2 separate regions of the Homo sapiens genome follow, and region 2 is linked to region 1. The links come from fine-mapping of genetic effects on gene expression. A gene starts in region 1. The other region holds a variant in brackets. All regions are shown on one strand. Distances are between the middles of the regions. Region 1 holds the start of SLC46A3 (solute carrier family 46 member 3). Region 2 has its middle 34 kb from the start of SLC46A3.

Region 1 (2,914 bases):
TAGAGAGACCAATGGATGATGAGTTCACGGTCCTCTTTAACTCAAAGCCCGGTATACATTCCCATTTTATTAAATACTATGGATATTGTAATTTCTTACCTCCTGGAATGCAAAAATTGGGCTGCTTTTGTTTTTTTCACACTCAGAAATATTGCTATCAGATGAAAAAGTGTAGTTGCCAGTTTCTTCCCATATTCTCCGATAAACATATTGCGTTGTCAGTGGACCGGTCAAAGTCATAGCAAATGCACTAAGGAAAATGGCAGGTTCTACAAATAAAATCTTCATATTGCCTGGGTAGGTAGCTGTATTCTATAAAAAGTGAAAACGGAGAAAGATCATCTGTCTCATCCCAGAGGCTAGATATTCAAAGATGGGTAAGTTTGAGCAATTTTGTGGAGTAAATGTTTAAACAAGCAAACTAGAGAACAGAAAAGGCAGTAAGCACTTTCTCAGAGAATAACTTTTACTTTGGAGTAGAGTACTCTGTAACAACCTGAGGCTGCCATGCTTTCCATTTTTATGAGTAGGACATTGTAGGACTCAAGCCGCCTTTGAGTCTTTGAAATCATAAACTGTCACCCATCTTGGTTAGCCAATGATCACAGTACAGTTCCCACACTGTATATTGCCAACTGATTTTTCGTAAGTTCAACAATGAGGTTCCTTTTGGGAAGCGACAGTTGCACAATTGTTATTGTTATTTTGCTGCGTATTAAAAACGGACAGGGAGGGGGCGTTTTAAAAAGCAGCTCCCAATCGAAAGGGCCTTATTTTTAACTCACCCCACGATTACAGTCTTCCTGCCAGGCTGGGTACAGGTCGGGCCGTGCCAGGGGCTGTCGCCTCGGATGCCCTGCGCTCGTGCGCGCCCGGGTTCAAGGGCAGCCTCTGGACTGGGGCAACAGAGGACGCGCCGGGGACAGTAACCTCGGACTACGCGGCCGGCGCTGGGGTGGGGAGAGTACTTTCCCGTCGAACTCGACCAAATTACGCTTGTCGGGGAGTCTCAAGCGTATTGTAAAGCAAACCTCGGCAAGCGCACTTCCGCGTCCCGAGTGACACCTGCAGGGTTCTCCGGCAGCCCTCGGCTTCCCCGCGGCCCTGCGGACCTCGGCCTCAGCGCGGCGCGGCGGGGCGCGGAGCAGCTGCTCCTTCTGCGCAGTGGACAATCGGCCAATCGGCGCCTCCGTCGGTCGGTCAGCGGCCCTGCCAGCGCTAGGCGATGACTCGGCCGCAGCCAGCTGAGCATCGCTGTCCGCCGAGGAGGCGGGGTCGGCTGCCGCGGCGCTGTCACTGTTCTACCCGGCTCTCCTGCGATTGGGCCCAGCGGTCGGTGCCCCAGCGGCGATTGGTCCACCCGGACGTCACTCTCCCCTGGAGAGTGGCTAGTGGATCGTGCACCCACCCTCGGAGGCCCGGAGTGGATCCCGCGCGACCGAGCAGCCACTCAGCACCGCTGTTGAGTGGTGGGCCGCGCCGCAGGCTCAACAGCTCTGGAGTTGCAAAGCATTTCTGAATCCGAATATCCTTTCTCATAGAAACACATAAAACAACAGTTGGAAAAGTAACATGTTTGGGCTGTAGCCCCCAGCAGGATCCCGGTCGGCCCGCAGAAGAGGGGAATGGGCGCAGGTGGAGGGCATAGGAAAGAGAGTGCTCAATGCAGAGTTAGCGGAGGGTTGGAATGTGGTCGCTGGCTTTTCCTGGGGAGGGGAGGGGGGACTTGGGCAAATCGTTAAATTTTCATGAACCTCCATGTCTTTATCTGCCACGTGGGGATGATAAGTCTTACAGGGTTGTCTAATTAAACACTCAGCATGTATACACAACACAGCCCCTGGACATAGGAGGAGTTGTCAGTGCTCTCCAACACACCCACCAGGAACAACTTGTAGTAAAAGAATTGAGCTACTACTTCTTGAAGCCAGGAGAAATGCATGCATGAGGAACCGTGGGGGCATCTCAGTAAGAAGGTGTTAGAATTTACTATGGGCTTGCGTTATGTGATTTTGGGAAGAGTTCAAGAAAGCAAGGCCTTACTCTGGATTGGTTGCTGTCAGGAAATGGCAGTAATTCTATGATTGGGTATCTTAATAAGTCTTATTTAGGAGTCAAGACTAGACAGAGGCTAAAGCCATGAATGATAAAGAAGCAACAGTCACACATATTTGTCATTTTTGTGGTTTAGACAGTGCCTAAATTTTGTCCGTGTTCAGACAAAATTATGACGTGGTCTTGTTTTTGTCTTGATCATGGTTACAGAATGCTCTTGTCTGACTTTGGTGTTCCGTGAAATTGTTTTCATTCGACAGAACACCATGGTCCAGAAAAGTTCTTAGCAACACCAAGGCCCAGCTGATAGTTCCAGCACCTGGATGTCAGAGCTGCTTTCTCTTCCTCAGCACTCCTTAAATGACAGTTGTGTCACTGAATGCAGAGTTAAACGTCTTAGGTTTGAGTCCTAACTGATACTTAGTAGCTGGTAACCTTGGACTTGCCACTTAATCTTACTTCCCAGCTTCTTCAAATCAGCATTTATGAAGCACTTGTTATGAGTTTCAAACAATGGAGCATGGATATTGGAAAGAAGATAAACAAACATGAGTAAGATACAGTTTGCAAGGAAGACATAATATTTTAAGTTGCAGTACTTTGTACTAAGTACTATATTATTCTAAACGGCACTTAGAAGATGTCCTTTTTTTTTTTTTTTTTTTTTGAGGTGGAGTCTCGCTCTGTCACCCAGGCCGGAGTGCAGTTGCAGGATCTTGGCTCACTGCAACCTCCGCCTCCCGGATTCAAGCAATGATCCTGCCTCAGCCTCCTGAGTAGCTGGGGTTACAAGTGTGCGCCACCATGGCCGGCTAATTTTTGTATTTTTAGTAGAGACAGGGTTTCACCATGTTGACCA
Region 2 (2,914 bases), 34 kb after region 1:
CCGCCTCCAAAAAAAAAAAAAAAAAAGAAAGGGGAAAAAGGAAGAAAGGAAACGACATAACGATATATGTAAGACTGAAACTTTCTTGCTGCATGAGATATGGTATTGTGAAATGATTCAGATTTTGGCTTCTGAGCTCAGATTGCCTAGGTCCAAATCCCACTCTGGCACATAGCTGGGTGATCTTGGACAGCTCCCTCAGCCTATTAGTTTCTTCATCTGTAAAATGGGATGCTGATCGTGTATCTTTCATTGGCTATTGCTGTGTGCATTAAATGAGTTAGTACCTGTAAAGTCCTTTGAAAGGTGCTTGGGACATTGCAAGTGTTAAAAGCATTGTACCCTGCATAGGCCAGAAAGAAGGCATCAGAGCAGAGCCGACGGTACAGGCCATGTTGTCTGACCACATCTGTGGCCTCAGGCAAGGAAATGTCCTCTCTATGCTTCTGTTTCCTCATCTGGCAATGGGGACAATACCAGTACTTCCTTCAGAGGAGTTTTGTGAGGCTAAAATGAAATTGCATGTGTAAAGCTCTTAGCAAATAGTGTTGGCACATACAAAATGCTCCGTTGATACCAGGTATTTTATTATTATGATTTAAAAAATTCTCTGCATTTAAAGAAATCTGCCACCTCCTTTCCAAACACCCTATACTTTCCTCTTCTTTTGGAAGTATTCCTCTCATAGTTTGAAATATTTAATTCTTGATGTTGTCCAGTTTTTCTTTGAAGGGCTAGTTTCTTTGATCCAGGGAGATGCAGCATTTATGTTGGCTGTCAACAGGGCAACGCCCAGGAATTATTATTTTTCTAATGACCTAACGTCATTTTCCAGAAATTCTCTAAAAAACAAACTTCTTCGGGGACAAAATAAATTTGAGACTTCCATTAGTTCTTGCAAACACTTTATAACCCATCTCTCAGATGCTAACATTTTCCTGCGCATTCTGACCGGGTGCCAGAAATCCTATGGCTCTGACATCTAAAATGAGGATTGTTTGGCTGTTCTCAGTACATTCTATTTGTTCTGAGGTATATTTTGTACTGAAAGTTTAAAGGAATTACCTTGTATCTTATATTTAGCCTACCGTAACTTGTTTTTCTCTTCTATATATTTATTCAGGTTTGTTTCCTACTTTATTTTACAGTTATCACAAGGACACTACAAAGTCTCTTTTGTGAAAT[C/T]GCCAAATGTTTCAGAATTCAACAGACATTATTAACTGTTCTTTCACCCTCCAAGAAACTCTACATTCATCTCAGTTCCCTGTATTGAAAAAGTCTCTGAAAAAAAGTATGTGGACATTTATTTATTATGAGGAAATCAGCATTTCTATTTATCTCTTAATTATTATAACATTTAATCATATTTGTTGGTTCAAGGTAAGTACTAATTGTGCTTCTCTCAAAGTATGAGCACTATATTTCTTCAGAAATAATGCTAAGCCTAGACAACAGGGCAAGACCCCATCTTTAAAATTTGTTTTTCTTCTTTTTGAGACGGAGTCTCGCTCTGTCACCCAAGCTGGAGTACGATAGTGCGATCTCAGCTCACTGCAACCTCTGCCTCCTCGGTTCAAGCAATTCTCCTGCCCCAGCTTCCCTAGCAGCTGGCATTACAGGTGCCCGCCACCACGCCCAGCTAATTTTTTGTATTTTTAGTAGAGATGGGGTTTCACCATGTTGGTCAGGCTGGTCTCGAACTCCTGACCTCAGGTGACCCACCCACCTTGGCCTCCCAAAGTTCTAAGATTACAGGCGTGAGCCACCACACCTGGCCAAAAAAAAATTTTTTTTAAGTTAGCTGGGTGTGTTGGTGCACACCTGTAGTTTCCAGCTACTTGGGAGGCTCAGGCCAGAGGATTGCTTGAGTCCAGGAGTTTGAGACTTCAGTGAGTGACGATGGTGCCACTGCACTCCAGCCCCTGGGCCACAGAGAGAGAGAGACCCTATCTGAAAAAAGAAAGAAAAAAGAAAAAGAGAAAGGAAGGAAGGGAGGAAGGAAGGAAGGGAGGAAGGGAGGGAGGAAGGAAGGAAGGAAGGAAAAGAAAGAAAGAGAAAGAAAGAGAGAAAGAAAGAAAGAAGGAAAGAAGGAAAGAAAGAAAGAAAATATTGATGGCCAGAGAGAGAGAGAGACCCTATCTAAAAAAAGAAAGAAAAAAGAAAAAGGAAGAAAGAGAAAAAAAGGAAGAAAGAGAGAAAAAGAAAGGAAAGAAAGGAAAGAAAGAAAGAGAAAGAAAGAAGGAAAGAGGAAGGAAAGAAGGAAAGGAAAGACGAAAGAAAGAAATGCTGAATGTTACAGATATTGACACAGACATTCCTACATTGGAATGCATATTCCCTCTGGGCTTTTACAGTTAGGGAAGTGCTGAGTCACTGCCTGGCGTACTCACATGCCTGTAGTTTATAAGCCAGCCACATGCTGGCAGAAACAGTGTAGAACCAGTGGGCCATGTGGACCTCTTGCCACCCACAAGCAAGGCGGGTGACAGGGCAGAGAGCTCCTTAGCAGTTACTAGCAATGGCTCGCTTGGTTGAAATAATTTTTTGAAGCTTTTGACAAATAATATAAAGATTACTAAGAAAGCCTGGCGGTTTGCAGCAAAAATTATTTGCTTGGGCAAACTTTAGTCAGGCTCTGGAATCTTCTCCTAGGGCCTTCTATGCACTTCCTTGTAAAATCTAGTTTTAGCAAAGAACCCTGCTAAGTCAGTTAAGCAAGAATCCCCCACCTACAATATCTGATCACCTTCATGTCTGATTGGGTTCTTCTCCCTCCACCAGCCCCCAGGCGATGTCTGGTTTCCTGGCCTGTCTTCAACAAGAATCCTGTTGTTGGTTTAGCTAAAGTCTTTCTCAGTCCTGAAGTTCCCTCTTAGTGATTTTCCCTCCACCGACCCCCACCCTGCTCCTTGGC

The links. PIP is the estimated chance that this variant, and not a neighbour inherited with it, causes the effect.
Region 2: its variant is fine-mapped to the expression of SLC46A3 in whole blood (INTERVAL, PIP 0.90).

The regions. Positions count from the first base shown.
Region 1 is chr13:28,717,711-28,720,624 of GRCh38, forward strand. It overlaps SLC46A3 (solute carrier family 46 member 3), which reads right to left and starts at 1,260. Exons shown (of 6, transcript NM_181785.4): 1 at 786-1,260; 2 at 100-312. The coding sequence starts at 288.
Region 2 is chr13:28,751,319-28,754,232 of GRCh38, forward strand. No RefSeq gene overlaps it. Among named protein-coding and RNA genes, the nearest start is that of SLC46A3, 34 kb to the left of the region's middle. RefSeq lists an enhancer at 2,026-2,771. The variant C/T (reference allele first, on the strand shown) is at 1,186.